Linked DNA regions of Homo sapiens: region 2 is linked to region 1. Evidence: fine-mapped expression QTL. Tissue or cell type: whole blood. Region 1 holds a variant in brackets; the other region holds the start of a gene. All regions are shown on one strand. Distances are from middle to middle.

Region 1 (8,201 bases):
ATTAGACCCTCATCTGACACCATAAACAAAAATAAACTCAAAATGGATTAAAAACTTAAACATAAGACTCAGAACCGTAAAACTACTAGAAGAAAGCATAGGGAAAAAGCTTTCTGACATTTGTCTTGGCAATAATATGTTTGAATAAGATAGCAAGAGTACAGGCAACAAAAGCAAAAATAGACAAGTAGAATCACATCAAATTAAAAAACTGCTGCCCAGCAAAGAAAAAAAAATCACAGAGTTAAATAACAACCTATGGAATGGGAGAAAATATTTGTAAACCATATATCTTACAAGGAGTTAATATCCAAAATATATAAGGAACTCACACGAGTCAATAGCAAAAGCAAATAATCCAATTATAAAATGGGCAAAGGACCTAAATAGGCATTTCTAGAAAGAAGATATACAAATGGCCAACAGGTATATGTAATGGTGCTCAACATCACTAATCATCAGGGAAATGCAGATGAAAACCCAATGAAACATCACCTCATAACTATCAGGATGGCTATTAATCAAAAAGACAAGAGATTAAAAGTGTTGACAAAGATGCAGGAAAAAGGGAACCCTTGTACAGTGTTCATGAGAATTTATATTGGGACAGCCTTTATCAAAAACAGTATACAGGGTCCTCAAAAAATAAAAAATAGAACGACCATATTATCTAGCAATCCCTCTTTTGGGATATACCCACAGAAATGGAAATCAAGATTAAGATCTTGAAGATTTATCTGCACTCCCATGTTCACTGCAGCATTATTCACAACAGCTAAGATATGAAAAGAGTGTAAGTATCCACTGATGGATGAATGGATAAAAGAAAATGTGGTGTACACACACACACACACACACACACACACACACACAATGGAATATTATTCAGCCTCAGGAAAGAATGAAATTTTGCCATTTGCAACAACATGGATGAACCTGGAGGATATTATGCTAAATGAAATAAGGCAGACACAGAAAAACAAATACTGCTTGATCCCATTGATGTGTGAAACCTAAAATAGTCGCACTCATAGAATTATAAAGCGAATGGTGGTTGCCAGGGGCAGTAGGGAGGGAGAAACGGTAATGCTGGTCAAAGGATAAAAAGTTTCAATATGCAGGATGAATACGTTCTACAGATCTAATGTACAGCCTGGTGGCTATGATTAACAATATTCCTTACTTGAAATTTTCTAAGAAGTAGATCTTAAATGTTTTTGCCACAAAAAAAGATAATAATAAAAGAAGAAAAAGAAAATGGTAACTTGGTGAGGTGATAGATATGTTAATTGGTTTGATTGTGAAGACCATTTCACAATGTATACATACATCAAAACATCAAGTTGTATACCTTAAATATGTACAATTTTTATCCATCAATGTTCTTCAATAAGGCTGTTTAAAGAAAAAAAGAAAAAATCCAACTCTTAAAAAAATAATAGAATCAATCAGAAAACTAAAACAGCATACACTTAATGACATAAAAATAGAAAACTCTTGTATTCCAAAAAACGGCTGGCAAATCATGAAAAAATGTTTGTATCAGCCTTGCCAAAAATTCAATATCCTTAATATATAAAGTGCTTATAAGTCAGTGCTTATAAATCCATATATACTATAATATATAGTATCTTTAATATTTTCATATACTATAGCATAGTATTTCTTCTAGTGAACTGTAAGTGCTATAATTCAGTAGTAGAATACCCTAATTTTAAAAACAGGCAAAAGATACAAATTATTGTGTTAAACTTTTAAGTTCAGGGGTACATGTGCAGGTTTGTTACATAGGATAACTGTGTCATGGTGATACAGGAGTTAAGAAGAAATCACTTAGGCAGATAGTGAGGGTACAGAAGTCCTCGGTAAGGCTTTTCTCTTTAATGAAAAGCAGCCCCAAATCATTGTCTAACAAAGAGCAGCCTGTAAAGTCAAGCGGCAGACATAGACGAGGAAGCTGGGAGCTTGCATGGGTGAATGCTGGCAGGAACTAGGGGCTAGACATGTTTAAGATGGCAGCTTCATCTTCCCTTCTCTGCCAGCCATGTGTACAGTAAGAAGCAGACAAGATGGCTCAGATCAACTGGAAAGCCCATTTGCATAATAAGATTAGGGTGAGACAACCGGCCTTTCCCCATCTGCTATGTAAATGTCATACCTGATCGAACCTATCTGTGAACCCTTTGTAAATCAGACACTGCCTCCTCAAACCTGACTATAAAATTCAATGCCACCTGCAGGTCTTTTCCATTCAGGGACCCCACTCTCTCTATAGAGAAAGCTGTTTCTCTTTCTCTTCTCTTCTGCCTATTAAACCTCCACTCCTAAACTCCTCTTGTTTGTCCATGTCTTAACATTTTCCTGGTGCACGACCATGAACCCCAGGGTATATACCCCAGACAACATAGTCACTTCTATGGGGGTTTATTGTACAGATTATTTCATCACCCAGGTATTAAACCTAGTACCCATTAGTGATTTTTCCTGATCCTCTCCCTCCTCCCACCCTCCACCTTGAGATAGGCCCCAGTGTGTGTTGTTCCCCTCTATGTGTCCATGTGTTCTTATCATTTAGCTCCCACTTATAAGTGAGAGCATGAGGTATTTGGTTTTCTGTTCCTGCATTAGTTTGCTAAGGATAATGGCCTCCAGCTCCATCCACATCCCTGTGAAGGATATGATCTCATTCTTTTTTATGGCTGCATAGTATTCCATGTTGTATATGTACCACATTTTCTTTACCCAGTCTATCATTGATGGGCATTTAGATTGACTCCATGTTTTTGCTATTGTGAATAGTGCTGCAATGAACATGTGTGCATGTGTCTTTATAATATAATGATTTATATTCCTTTGGGTATATATCCAGTAATAGATTGCTGGCTCAAAAAGTAGTTCTGTCTTTAGGTCTCTGAGGAATCACCACACTGTCTTCCACAATGGTTGAACTAATTTACACTCCCATCAACAATGTATAAGCATTCCTTTTTCTCCACAACCTCACTAGCATCTGTTATTTTTTTATTTTCTTAACAGCCAATCTTACTGGTGTGAAATGGTTTCTCACTGTGGTTTTGATTTGCATTTCTCTAATGATTAGCGATACTGAGCTTTTTTATATAATTGTTGGCCACATGTATGTCTTCTTTTGAGAAGTGTCTGTTCATATCCTTTGCCCACTTTTTAATGAGATTGTTTGTTTTTTCTTGTAAATTTGTTTAAGTTCCTTATAGACTTTTGATATCAGACCTTTGTTGAATGTAGTTTGCAAAATTTTTCTCCCATTCTGTGGGTTGTCTGTTTACTCTGTTGATAGTCTCTTTTGCTGTATAGAACCTCTTTAGTTTAATTAGATCCCATTTGTCAATTTTTGCTTTTGTTGCAATTGCTTTTGGTATGTTTATCATGAAATCTTTGCCAGTGCCTATGTCCTGAATGGTATTGCCTAGGTTATCTTCTAGAGTTTTTATAGTTTTGGGTTTTACATTTAAGTCTTTAATCCATCTTGAGTTAATTTTTGAGATATAATTTTTTTTTTGAGACAGTCTCTCTCTGTCACCCAGGCTGGAGTGCAGTGGCTCAAACTCGATTCACTGCAACCTCCACCTCCTAGGTTCAAGCAATTCTTGTGCCTCAGCCTCCCGAGTAACTGGGATTACAGGCACGTGCCACCACCCCCAGCTAATTTTTATATTTTTAGTAGAGACAAGGTTTCACCCTGTTGGCCAGACTGGTCTCGAACTCCTGGCCTCAAGTGATCCACCTGCCTCAGCCTCCAAAGTGCTGGGATTACAGGCATCAGCCACCATGCCTGGCCAAAAATTTTTAGGAATACAAATGGCCAATAATATAAAACATTTTTCAAATTCATTGAAATGGAACTATTACAGTGAGACACCATTTTTAACCATTGAATTTTAAAGATATTTTTGAAAAAGGAAAATACTAAGTATTG[A/C]TAAGAGAGAAGCAGTCATACATTGCTGTTGGCAATACAGACTGGAACCACATATCTGGAGAAAATTTAAGAATATGTACCAAGATTCTAATTATTCCTAAATGCACAGTGGCATCCTAGATTGAATCCTGGAACAGAATACTGACTTTAGTGGAAAAACTGGTGAACTCAAATAACATCTGTAGTTTAGTTAATAGTATCATACCAATGTTAATTTCTTAGTTTTGACAAATGAACCATGGTTATGTAAGATGTCAAAATTAGTAGAGGTTGGGTGAAGGAAATATAAGAACTTTGGACCATTTTTGCAATTTTTCTGTAACTTAAAATCATCCCCAAATTTTAAAAATTAGGCATTTATGTCATTTAGCCCAATAAATTCTACTCTAAGATACTAACTATGGGAGATAATCAGATGAAAAATAGTTTGGGATACGTTATTCATTGCAGTGATATATTTGAGAGCAATGGAGAAGAGAAATGGAAAGAAAAGAAAAAAAGGGATAAAAAATCCACATGCTCAACACTATGGTCAATGGAATACCCACCCTCATCCATGCACAAAACAATTATGAGGCCTGTTCTAGATGTTGGGGCACAGCAGTGAACAAAAGAAAAATCTGTGATGTAAGAAGCTTAATTCCTGGCCAGGCATTGTGGCTCATGCCTGTAATCCCAGCACTTTGGGAGGCAGAGGTAGGTGGATCGCTTGATGTCAGGAGTTCGAGACCAGCTTGGCTAACATGGTGAAACCCTGTCTTTACTAAAAATACAAAAAATTAGCTGGGCGTGGTGTCAGGCACCTGCAATCCCAGCTACTCGAGAGGCAGAGGCAGGAGAATTGCTTGAACCCCAGGAGGTGGAGGTGACAGTGAGCAGAGATTGCACCACCACTCTCCAGCCTGGGTGACAGAGTGAGACTCCATCTCAAAAGAAAAAAAAAAGAAGAGGCTTAATTCCTGAAAGGGGAAAAAAAGTTGAATGGATAAGAGAAACAAAATGTGTAGCATGTTAGTGATAAGTGTTAAGAAATAAAACTAGCAAGGGGATACAAAATGTCAGGGAGAGGTTACAATTTTAGGTGGCGAGACCAGGGAAGGTGGCCTCACTGGGAGGGTGATTTTTAAGTGAACAGCCAAGGAATTGAGGTGTGAGCCCTGTAGATATCTAGGAAAGGAACACCCCAGGCAGAGGGAACAGCAAGTCCAAAGCCCTCATAGTGAGCGTGTGCCTGCAAGGTCTGAGGAACAGCAGCAGGGAAACAGCACAGCTGAAGCAGAGTGAATGGACAAAAGAGAGTAGCGGATAGTGGTGCGGGGGAGTGCGTGGGGTAAAGACTTGCTCTTATCTGAATAAAATGGGAGCTATGGGAGAGTTTTTAGCAGAGAAGGGACATGATCTGACTTACAATGTATATGTTTGATTTTTGTTTTACTCTTAATTCTTTTCTACATTTCTCAAATTTTCTATAACGAACATCTATTCCTTGAAAAAATAAAGGAACAATGTCCTACCAGATTGCGATAGCTTGCCTGGAAACAATTGAGTTATTTCTTTCTTTTTTTTTTTCTGAGACAGGGTCTCACTCTGTCATCCAGGCTGGAGTGTCGTGGCGCGATCATGGCTCACAGCAGCCTGGACATCCTGGGCTGGAGCGAGCCTCCCACCTCTGTCTCTTGAAGACCTAGGACCATAGGCATGCACCAATGTGCCCAGCTAATTTTTGTACTTTTTTTTAGATGGGGCGGGGGGGGGGAGGGTCTCACCATGTTGCCCAGGCTGGTCTTGAATCCATGGGCTCAAACGATCCTCCCACCTTGGCCTCCCAATGTGCTAGGATTACAGGCATGAACCACCATTGAGTTATTTCTTATTGAGTTATTTCTTATAGCACAGAGCCTATTTGGTTCATGATACTTTAATACTCATCTGTAAAATGAAAGCCTCAATAGCTCTTACTAAAGCATACTAAGAATGTTTAATTGAAAACATCTTTAGTCTAGGCCGGGTGCGGTGGCTCATGCCTGTAATCCCAGCACTTTGGGAGGCTGAGACGGGTGGATCACTTGAGGTCAGGAGTTCCAGACCAGCCTGGCCAGCACAGTGAAACCCCATCTCTACTAAAAATACAAAAATTAGCCAGGCATGGTGGTACACACCTGTAGTCCCAGCTACTCAGGAGGCTGAGGCAGGAGAATCGCTTGAACTCGGGAGTCAGAGGTGGCAGTGAGCCGAGATTGCACCATGGCACTCCAGCCTGGGTGACAGAGCGAGACTCCATCTCAAAAAAACAAAAAAAAAAAGAAGAAGAAGAAGAAAACTTTTAGTCTAAAATGATGATATGCTAGAGTTTAATTACAGAATTTTAGAACTAAAAGGGAGTTTAGAGATTATCTAATTTAGTCTCCTAGTAGATGAACTAAAGGAGACTAAAATCTATGTTCTGACCCCTGGTCTAATTTCACCATATTAAAAAAAAAAAAGAGAGAGAGAGAGAGAGAGTAAGAGAGATATATTGAGAGTAAGCTGCCAAATCTTAAGGACCTACCAAAAACAATCGCAGGTAGGATTCTTACTTCATATTGTTTCAAGCACCTACGTTAAATGGTATTATTTTTAAATATACATAAATGTAAAGCTATTCACTTATTCATTCAAGAAATATGTTGAATGGTTAGTATATGCCAAACACTGTTAAAATATTTAAGATGAAGAATTTTGAAGATTTTTTTTTCTGTCTCAAAGAAAAAAATCTTAAAGGCAAAAGTTACATTGGAGGCTGGGTGCAGTGGCTCACGCCTGTAATACCAACACTTTGGGAGGCTAAGGTGAGCAGATTACCTGAGGTCAGGAGTTCGAGACCAGCCTGGCCAAAATGGTGAAACTCTGTCTCTACTAAAAATACAAAAAAAAAAATTAGCCGGGCATGGTGCTACACGCTTGTAGTCCCAGCTACTTGGGAGGCTGAGGCAGGAGAATCGCTTGAACCCAGGAGGCAGAGGTTGCAGTGAGCCAAGATAGCTCACTGCACTCCAGCCTGGGCAACAGAGCAAGACTCTATCTCAAAAAAAAAAAAAGTTACATTGGTTGTTAAATAATTTTCCCTGGGGGCCTGGGATTAATGTAATACCATTTAGCTGTATATCTGTATATGCTGTATATTCTTTCTGCCCTATTAATAAGAAACGTAATTGTAGGAAAAACAATAAAGGCTTGCTCCTCTCAGGAAACATCTGACCAGGTACACAAAGATAAGTTGGAGACAGAAACTCCTAAGGGACCACAACTCAAGCCTGTGGTGGGAGTTACTGCATGAAATGGCATTGTTTTTAAATAGCCATAAATTTCAAGCTATTCACTTATTCATTCAAAAAATATGTTGAATGGTTAGTATATGCCAACACTGTTAAAATCTTTAAGATGAAGAATTTTCCCTAAATGCACCTCAGTATAACTCTGAACATAGTGAAACTACCTTTGCAGAATTGTTAAGTAATGAGAGAAATCTAACATGACTGACTGTCTTGCTTTTAACCTCAACCTCACAGGCTCTTCTCTTTTCCTCTCCTCTTTTTCTTTTCTCTTTTTTCTTTCTTTTTGTTGTTGTTTATTCTAGCATGGAGGCCAAGATAATATGAAGGGAATTTAGTTTATAGTTAAACTTTGAAGCAAGGAAAACTGAATCCCCTCTTGCTGGAGACTAATGCTGCATTCATAACACAAGATTAGAATTATGGTTGGGGCTTGAACCTTGCTAAAGAATAAGCATGGTTAAACAATAACCTACTGCTGCTTAGCTTGCTTTTCTATACATTGCTTTCTGCTCCAAAGTCACATGAGAGGTCATAAGATTTGTAACTCCCCAGCTACTCCTATAGATAACATAACTATTGTGAAACCTAAAGAACTGGTCTTTAAGATATTTTTCAGATTTAGCATTTCAACAAAGAGATACCACTTGGTTCTGAGAACACCCTTTCCCCCTTCCCTGGGAAGACTTAGCTGTGTGAAGACAATTTAGACACCTCTGTGATTTCATCTTCAGCCAATCAATTGTTTCAGTTTCCCCACTACCTGCCTACCAATTTACCCTTAAAAACTTTACCCTCTGAATTATTGGAGAGACAGATTTGAGAAATTTCTCCCATTCCCCTCATTTGTCTGGCCCCACAATAATTAAACTCTTTCTTTGCTGCAATACTTGCTGTTCTCAGTGCATTGGTTTTTCTGAGCAGCAGGCAAGAAG
Region 2 (8,177 bases), 21 kb after region 1:
TAGAGGGGATTGGTCAATGGGTGCAAAGTTACAGTTAGACAGGAAGAATAAAAGCTGCTATTCTATTACACAGTAGAATGACTACAGCTAATAATAATGTATTGTATATTTCAAGATAGCTAGAAGAGATGATTTTGAATGTTATCCCCAAAAAGAAATGATAAATGCTTAAAGTGACATATTATTTAATAATTATCCTGATTTGATCATTGTTCAACATATACATGCATTGAGACATCACACTGTACCCCATAAATATGTACAATTATTATTTGTCAATTGTACATAAAAGTAAAAAAAAAAAACTATCAGAATGATGCCTGCAAAAGGTATCTTGTGCTTCCGGGCATTGCATACTTAAGACGTTGGGGACTACCTATGTGGGTACAAATAATTGCTTGTGTGATTTCACTGGATTAAATCTAGCAAAGTCTTTTTACTAGATCCAGTGGTTTGCACCCTTACAACATGCTATATAGGGACCACAGAAGAGTAAGTTCACCACTGGATTTTATTCAGGAGCTATGCCAACTTGTGGGTGGACAAATTTAACTGACCTCGGCTCAAACACCACTAAGTGGCCCTCTTTTCAAGCCCCCAAGGGCCTACATTGGGTTGGTGGATAATCTGACCTGCCTTCTCTGTTGTTTCCTCACTGGTTCAGATCTTGCTATTTGGCCTGGCTCGCTCCTACATCCCAATAGCCTTCCCTGAAAGTTCCCATAATACCTTTCATAATCAGAGGTTAAAGCAGTCAATAACCAAAGTAAGCACCAACCTAAAAATAAATGAAGACAAGTTAGTTTCTACTGAGGAAAGGTTCCAATGGAGGTGCTGGAACTCACTCTTGGCATTAGCAGGGTGCCTGTTGTATGGAATTTGAAACTAATCTATAAATTGGGGAAAATCTTGAATTTGTAGCCAGTCAGACCTCCTAGGGGTTCACATGGTAGAAGCTACTCAAATATTCTCAGTGGATCAAAACATTTGTGTTCAACAAACACACTTCATGGAACATTACACAACTTTGGATCTCCTCTTTGCTCATGCTGGGGGCTCTTGCATGGTGCTGAATAAAACTGAATGTTGCACTTATTTTTCCTCTAATTTTACTACTATAGAAAACTTAATTTAAAAGGTGGCAGATACTGCTGTTTCTCTAAACACTGCCACTGAATATATTAAGGAAACTTCTCAGGGGAAAGGAACACATGATACATTTATGGGAGCAGCTAATGGTTGGTTTGTAGGCATCCTGAGTAGTGAAAGGCAAGCTAGGCTATTCCAAACTTTTCTAATCTTTATGCTTCTTTAGTGGCTCTCCAGGTTATTATAACTTGTGTTACCAGGCTAATTACAAAAATGGATACCTCTTTAAATCAGGCCATAAGGCTGAATCAGGTCATTCAGTGAACTATGGTCCTTGTAAAAAGTAAAGTAGAGGTTCCTTTTCAAAGACTTTCCTCCTCATCTGATTAGGAATAAATAGTAACCTCTCTTAGAAGCAAAATTTATTCAAAGACCTGTTAACATTCTTAAATATCTGCTAGCTGTAATAAAGAAATCAATGTACTTTATGTTCTTAGCTCCCACAATTTAGCCTAAATATTTGCCCTGGCATGCTTATACTGGTCCAAGTGGGCATTAGGTCATAGCCTGTTCCTCTTCCTTATTTAGAGGTGTTTTTCCCTTCTCAGCATTCCACAAGTTACTTCCTCCTTCCTTTGTTCTCCTCTGCCTTTGCCTCTTTTAAGAATTTCTAAGTTGCTAGCCAATCAAGACAAATACAGAATGTGAAGTCCCGTTCTAGCCAATGGAAACCAGTCACAACAGTAAGGTGGACGGGTCAGGTTATAAATGACCCTGCCTCCTTTGTTCGGTGTACTCTTGTGGCAAAACTGCTGGCGAGTGTACTCTTTCCGCAGAAAGTAAAAATGGCCTTGCTAAAGAAATTAATTTTATGTTCAAGTGCTATTTCTTTACGGCACCAAGAAATAAGCATTTCTAGCAGTCCTTAACCGCCATAATGCCCTAAATTAGACCATGACCAATTGGACTCAAATACTTTGAACTATCTTTATTGCCTGAACTTTGAATTGTTTAATTTTGATCAGTTCAGTTTGTGGAGACTCCTGTTAAGGTGTGTACCTCAGTTTATTGCTATACTCCTTCTCGTGGCCATAATAGTCTCCCTGATGTGTTGTTGTCCCCTCGAGAGTCTTCAATGTCTCTATGCAGCCATCCTTTGTACACCAAATGGTGTTATTACAGTTAGAATAACAACATGAAGAAAGTATAATCACTCAACTAATTTGACATTGTGACTTCCATACTGAGACAAAACAAGGTTCTGGTCAATCTCGTAAAACTGAGAGGCTGACCCAAAGGAGGAAACTGTTATTAAATTAAATCTGGCCTAAAGTTGCCTCCCTACCTAGCAAAGCATAATCAAACCTAATATGTAAATAAACTGCAATGTAATTTGAGAGTACGTTCTTCTAACAAGTGGCCAAGTCTTGGCCAATCACCGCAGCGGAGCTTTTAGCCCATTACAGGCTGCAAAAAATATTGTCTATAAACGCGGCTTGCCCACTGTTAGGGGCTGGAGCTCTCTGAACCTTTACTGGCTCAGGATACTACATGATTCATGCTTTCTTTGCTCAGATAAACTCTGCTAAACTTGTTTGAAGTTTTTTTGTTAACAATATTTAAACATAAAGCAAATAAATTAATAAGAATCCTATATCACTAAGTTACAGTAATTAGAAAGTATTCACCTGAGTGAGAAGATTGGCCAAGCTGCTATCCAGTCTTCCATTATTTGACAAGACATTTCTTTCCTATGCTTTCTAATAGTATTCGTTATTCCAGAAAGGTTGCTCTATGACCTTAAACCGTCCACATGTTCACTGCACTGATAGACGTCCAACGTCAAGATGGGTAACTAAAGGTCAACTCTCTCTTTACCTTCCCTGAGCCTGATTTTTGCATTGTAACTCATGGTCACTAGACATTTGTTTTGGGTGTTCGCAGTCTACATTTATTTCCCTTTTAGGGGAAACAATCACTGTCCACGGGATTAAAATAATCCCGAGTTGATTATTTGGTGACATCAACCAACGGTGCACATTTTGGGTCCATTACCAACACAGCCAAGCAGCACATATTTCTTCAGAGCCTAGATATGCACATGTCATCAAAGGATAGCATTTTACAGAGTCAACACCACTCACTTCATAGAACAAGGGGCCAGTGGCTTTTCAGAAGAAGGGTCTGTTCTCGGCCCCACACCAGAACGCCAGCCGCCAGGTCCCGCTGCTCAGCAGGTCTCAAGCCCGCGCTCACTCGGGCTCCGGCTGCTGACAGCTGCGAGCCCGCGCGTGTATACCCGCTCAACGCTGGGACGTTACAGCCAGGGCCAATGGGCAGAGCGGGACTCGAGGCCCCGCCCCCGCCTTGTGGCGTCACGGGGACGCCGGGGGCGCGCGGGCTGCAGGGCCGCGTAGGTCCCCGCCCCCAGAGTCTGGCTTTCCGCGGCTGCCCGCCTCGCGCGTCTTCCCTGCCCGGGTCTCCTCGCTGTCGCCGCCGCTGCCACACCATGGCCTTCGTCACCAGGCAGTTCATGCGTTCCGTGTCCTCCTCGTCCACCGCCTCGGCCTCGGCCAAGAAGATAATCGTCAAGCACGTGACGGTCATCGGCGGCGGGCTGATGGGCGCCGGCATTGCCCAGGTGAGCGGCCCTCCCTGCAGCGTGCCCACGCGCTTGGCCGCCCACCCTGAGGTGGAAGCTCTGGCGCGACCGGCCGCGAGGGGCCTGCACCCGCCCGACACCAGGGAGTTTTCACCCCGCGCCTCCCGGGTGTAGTTGAAATATCTCGCGTCTGGGCCTGTGAGGGCCCAAGTCTCACTCCCCTCAAAATTCAGGGTTCTGGGCCGATCCTCAGCTTCCTCGTTTGGAAAATTCTGGCTGCCCCCAGGGCCCGCTGAAGGTTCCATGGAGAGTGGCGGTGAATGCATTTTGGAAGCGGGCCGTGCAAGAGAAGAAAGAATTGTATGTGCACAAGGTTCAGGCATAACGCGTTTGTTCCTGCTCGGCTCAAACGGGAGTTTGCTGCCAAAGACATGAACTGCGATCAGTTTTAATTCTATCAGTTATTTTTGATTTTTATTCTGTAATTGTGCAGTCTTTGTCAAAGTAGTTTTCTCTCCTAAACGGCCTCCCGGCTCTCCCCGGTCTTTCCTTCGCTTGCTAGGTTGTAAAGAATAGTAGTAGTCATGACTTTTGTAGCACTTTGTAAAGTCACCTAATGGAAGATTGCTGAGGTCCTGGTTTTGACCTTTGAAATAGTGCCGTCTGTGCAGAGTTCTGAGCTTGCGATTTTGGCGCTGCAGCGGAATAAGTCTCTCTCTTTTTTTTTTTTTTTTTTTTTTTGAGTCGGAGTCTCTTTGACCCAGGCTGGAGTGGAGTGCAATGGCGCGATCTCGGTTCACTGCAACCTCCGCCTCCCGGGTTCAAGCGATTCTCCTGCCTCAGCCTCCCGAGTAGCTGGGATTACAGGCGCCCCGCCCGGCTAATTTTATATTTTTAGTAGAGACAGGGTTTCACCTTGTGGGTCAGGCTGATCTCGAACTCCTGACCAAAGGTGATCCGCCCGCCTGGCCTCCCGAAGTGCTGGGATTACAGGCGTTAGCCACTGCACCCAGCCGGAACAAGTCTTTTATCCATTGTACATCTTCAGGGCTTTTCCATTGTTCTGCTGAGCTGTGGTTCAGGCTCAGTTGTGCGAGTGATTGATTACCTGGCTACTGTAATGCTTGTACTTTTTTTTTTTAAAAATTATTCCATTTCAGCTCACATTGGAGAACCATGGTTTTCGTATCCTAGCTGATTATATTCTTAGCATTTCAGTCCTTTGCAACTTGGTTTGTTGGGGAAGGCGGTTATAGTCATCTAATTTTTCTTGGGGACAGTACTACTGTGGCTACAGTCATGAGAGAGTTTACTTTTTCAATGTCTTGTTTCCAACCAAGTCCACGCTTTCATGCTTGCTTTTTAAAAACAAAAACAAAAAAACCTTTTACTATTAGGTATTATATATCTCAATTTTCTTCTCCTTGGCAAGTTTTTTACAACGTTTTTATTTGATTGCATTTTCTTCTAAAAGCTATATCCCTGTAATGTTTTATTTATATGACTTCTTACAGTCTCCCATTTCCTCTGAGACCATAATTTTGGACATACATTGCCCTTTTTATTGTGTGGATCCCCTGGCTGCTAGGTTATAGTATCCCCATAATCTATGTTGTATGTGGACTGGGAGGAGTAACTCCCTTTAACCTAAAAGTTCCACAGGTTATACTCAAGAGAAAGTTTAGTTTGAGTACGTTTGTATTCCCAGGCTCCACCCAAATCTCCCAAGGCTGTGAGAGTGAGATTTGTTGTGAGCAGGAATAGAACAATGTGTTTTTTAGAAACATTTTAACAACATCTTAGTAACAAAATATTAGGGCCTTAAGCAGCCTCCAGGAACATTATGGGAAATGGATCCAGAAACTTGTGGCTGGTGTCCTTGAAGACAGCAGTGGAAAAAGATTAGAAACTAAGTAGAAAGCGTCACTTCAACTTTTGTAGAAAATCAGAGTGCTTAGTTCTTTGAATGCTGCATCCATCATTGGCCAAAAATGGATGTTGTGTTGCATTAAAAGGCAGAGGGGCAATACCTAAAATTACAGGTATGGTGTTGGAGCTTTCACCTGACAAAGGAGTAAGGAGAAATGATTGACATTAATGGAGAACACAGGCTTGTGCTTGTCAATCAAACTCTTAAATAGGTGGACCAGGGAGTGCCTTTTGAAACTTAAGGGAAAAAAAAGCTATTTATGCCATAGGCTGGACACATAATGGAACTGTCATTCTGAAAGGTTATAAAGACCAGAAATCTATAAAGTGGACGACCATAAGAAACAGTTCCATCCTTATGTAACACAGTTTGGAAAAACCTCAGTTACTTTAGTTGACAGCTCCAATCCTCTAAAACATTTGTGAGCAATGCTTTGCAGTGGTTTAGCTTATCTGCTTTTGCACCCTACCCTGTAGCATGCAGTTCTAGGCAGTATTGCTTCATTCTTTATGCTCCTTGACCAACAGCTTTTGGCATAGGGTAAATCTGTTTTGCTTATTGAGTGCCAGAGACGAATTAGTTGATGTGTTTTGAGTACAGATGGGCTACAGTTCAATATAAGAAGTTGGATGGTCTGCATGCTAGCTCTGCCTCATGCAGTATTAACATGGGACTTTACCTCTGTGTCTCGGTTTTCTCATCTCTAAAGTAGACTAATGCTAGTACTGGCCTCGTAGGGAGAGAATTGAATAAATTCAATGAATTCATGCATATGTCAAGCAGTTACATATATCAAGCATATGTCAAGCACTTACACAGTGTCTGGCATGTAATAAGAGTTCACAGAAAGTTAGCTGCCTTTATAATAATTATCTTCGGCCCGGCATGGTGGCTCAAGCCTGTAATCCCAGCACTTTGGGAGGCTGAGGGGGGCAGATCATCTGAGGTCAGGAGTTCAAGACCAGCCTGGCCAATATGGTGAAACCCTGTCTCTACTAAAAATACAAAAAAATTAGCCAGCATGGTGGCATGTGCCTGTGGTCCCACCTACTTGGAAGGCTGTGGCAGAATAGTCTCTTGAACCTGAGAGGTGGAGGTTGCAGTGAGCCGAGATCGCACCACTGCACTGTAGCCTGGGCAACAGAGCGAGACTCCGTCTCAAAAAGATAAATAAAAAGAATAATCATCATCTTCATTGCAGTTGTCCTGTCCTTTTGCCCTTTTCCCCTCATATCCACTCCCATCCTGATCACAGCTGCTGAGGTAGGCCTGTAAGGTTTAGATGGAGAATATTGGTCATGATTCCCTGTTTCATCTTGCTTAATCTTGAATGCATATACCCGCTGATGCTGCAGCGGGTATGTTTTTTCAGGGACCTCTGAAAGGAGGGAGAACACTTTTTAGTTACCCCCCATTTTATTGTTAAACTTTAGTAAAGCCATAAAAGTACAATCACAAACTAGTATTGAGGTTATGTTACTGATTTTCATTAGCTTAATTTTCTTGAACTTTCTGACGTGGTTTTAATGTTAGTCAAGGTGCAGTTCTGCTTATAATTTTAATAGTTTTGTCATTTTAAACACGTCAGTTTGTGCTCAGAAGGATGAAAAAATATTTAAATAGATTTTGTGGGAGCCTGATGCATTTCTCAAGCAATTAAGCAATTTAAGACAAGTTCAGTGCTTAATTACATTTGATCAGAGCACAGGCCATTTGTACATGTGTATTTTCCGAGAGTATCTACTTTGCCTGTCATTTCTTTTGTTTGTTTTAAATTAAAAAAACAAAAAATCCCTTAGACTGCAGGTTAATATTTGAAGTTAACTTGTTTCATGTGTTTGCTTATTACACACTTCTGACTTGGTTTTGATTGCTAATTTATCTTCACTGGATACTTAGGCCAATAAAGAAGCTTATAGGATTAAATGAGCCTTGAGTGGGGGACAGGTTGTTTTTTTGCTTTATAAAGAGGAAAACAAGAAAGGAAGAAAGCTGGTAGCTGTGTGCATTTCTCCAGTATTGAATCCTTTCTAGGCTTTGCTTCATACATTGGGTTTTTTCATATGAGGAGCCCAGAGAGAATGCATAGCTTTCATTAGATTACTTGTGAGGAGCCAGTGGGCTCCCTGGGAACGGGGCACTTCAGATGTCCCCCTTGAGACACTTTACATGCTCTCCGGGTGCAACCTTCTTTTTAGTGCACTACTCTTCTTTGAGGAAGTGAGAAAGTTTGCATCTTAAAGGGGGTTGGGGATAGGTTCTTCTCTCCCAAAGCTTGCTTTTTTTTTTTCCTCCTTTTTAAAAAGCAGAAAGTGCATATTTTTTCTAGAGAGAGCTTCTTTGGCTATTAAAAACAAAGTAAGGGCAGGGAGAGCCTGCTACGTTGCAGGGATTTTGTGTGACTCTACCATGCTTGATAAGGATTCAGGTAGACCTGAAAGCTTCTCCCCAGCCACTGGATTTGTTCTCTCATCTCTTCTTCTTGCCCCCAAATCTGCATTTTCTGATGCTGAAAAAGAGAATGATCAGAGTTGTTTCATATTTTTTTAGCTTTAT

What was found. PIP is the estimated chance that this variant, and not a neighbour inherited with it, causes the effect.
Region 2: it holds the start of HADH, and the variant in region 1 is fine-mapped to the expression of HADH in whole blood (INTERVAL, PIP 0.93).

The regions. Positions count from the first base shown.
Region 1 is chr4:107,965,012-107,973,212 of GRCh38, forward strand. The region is part of intron 1 of LOC107986298 (a long non-coding RNA gene); the gene reads right to left. Among named protein-coding and RNA genes, the nearest start is that of HADH, 21 kb to the right of the region's middle. The variant A/C (reference allele first, on the strand shown) is at 3,956.
Region 2 is chr4:107,986,335-107,994,511 of GRCh38, forward strand. It overlaps HADH (hydroxyacyl-CoA dehydrogenase), which reads left to right and starts at 3,555. Exons shown (of 8, transcript NM_005327.7): 1 at 3,555-3,730. The coding sequence starts at 3,599. RefSeq lists a silencer at 3,322-3,551.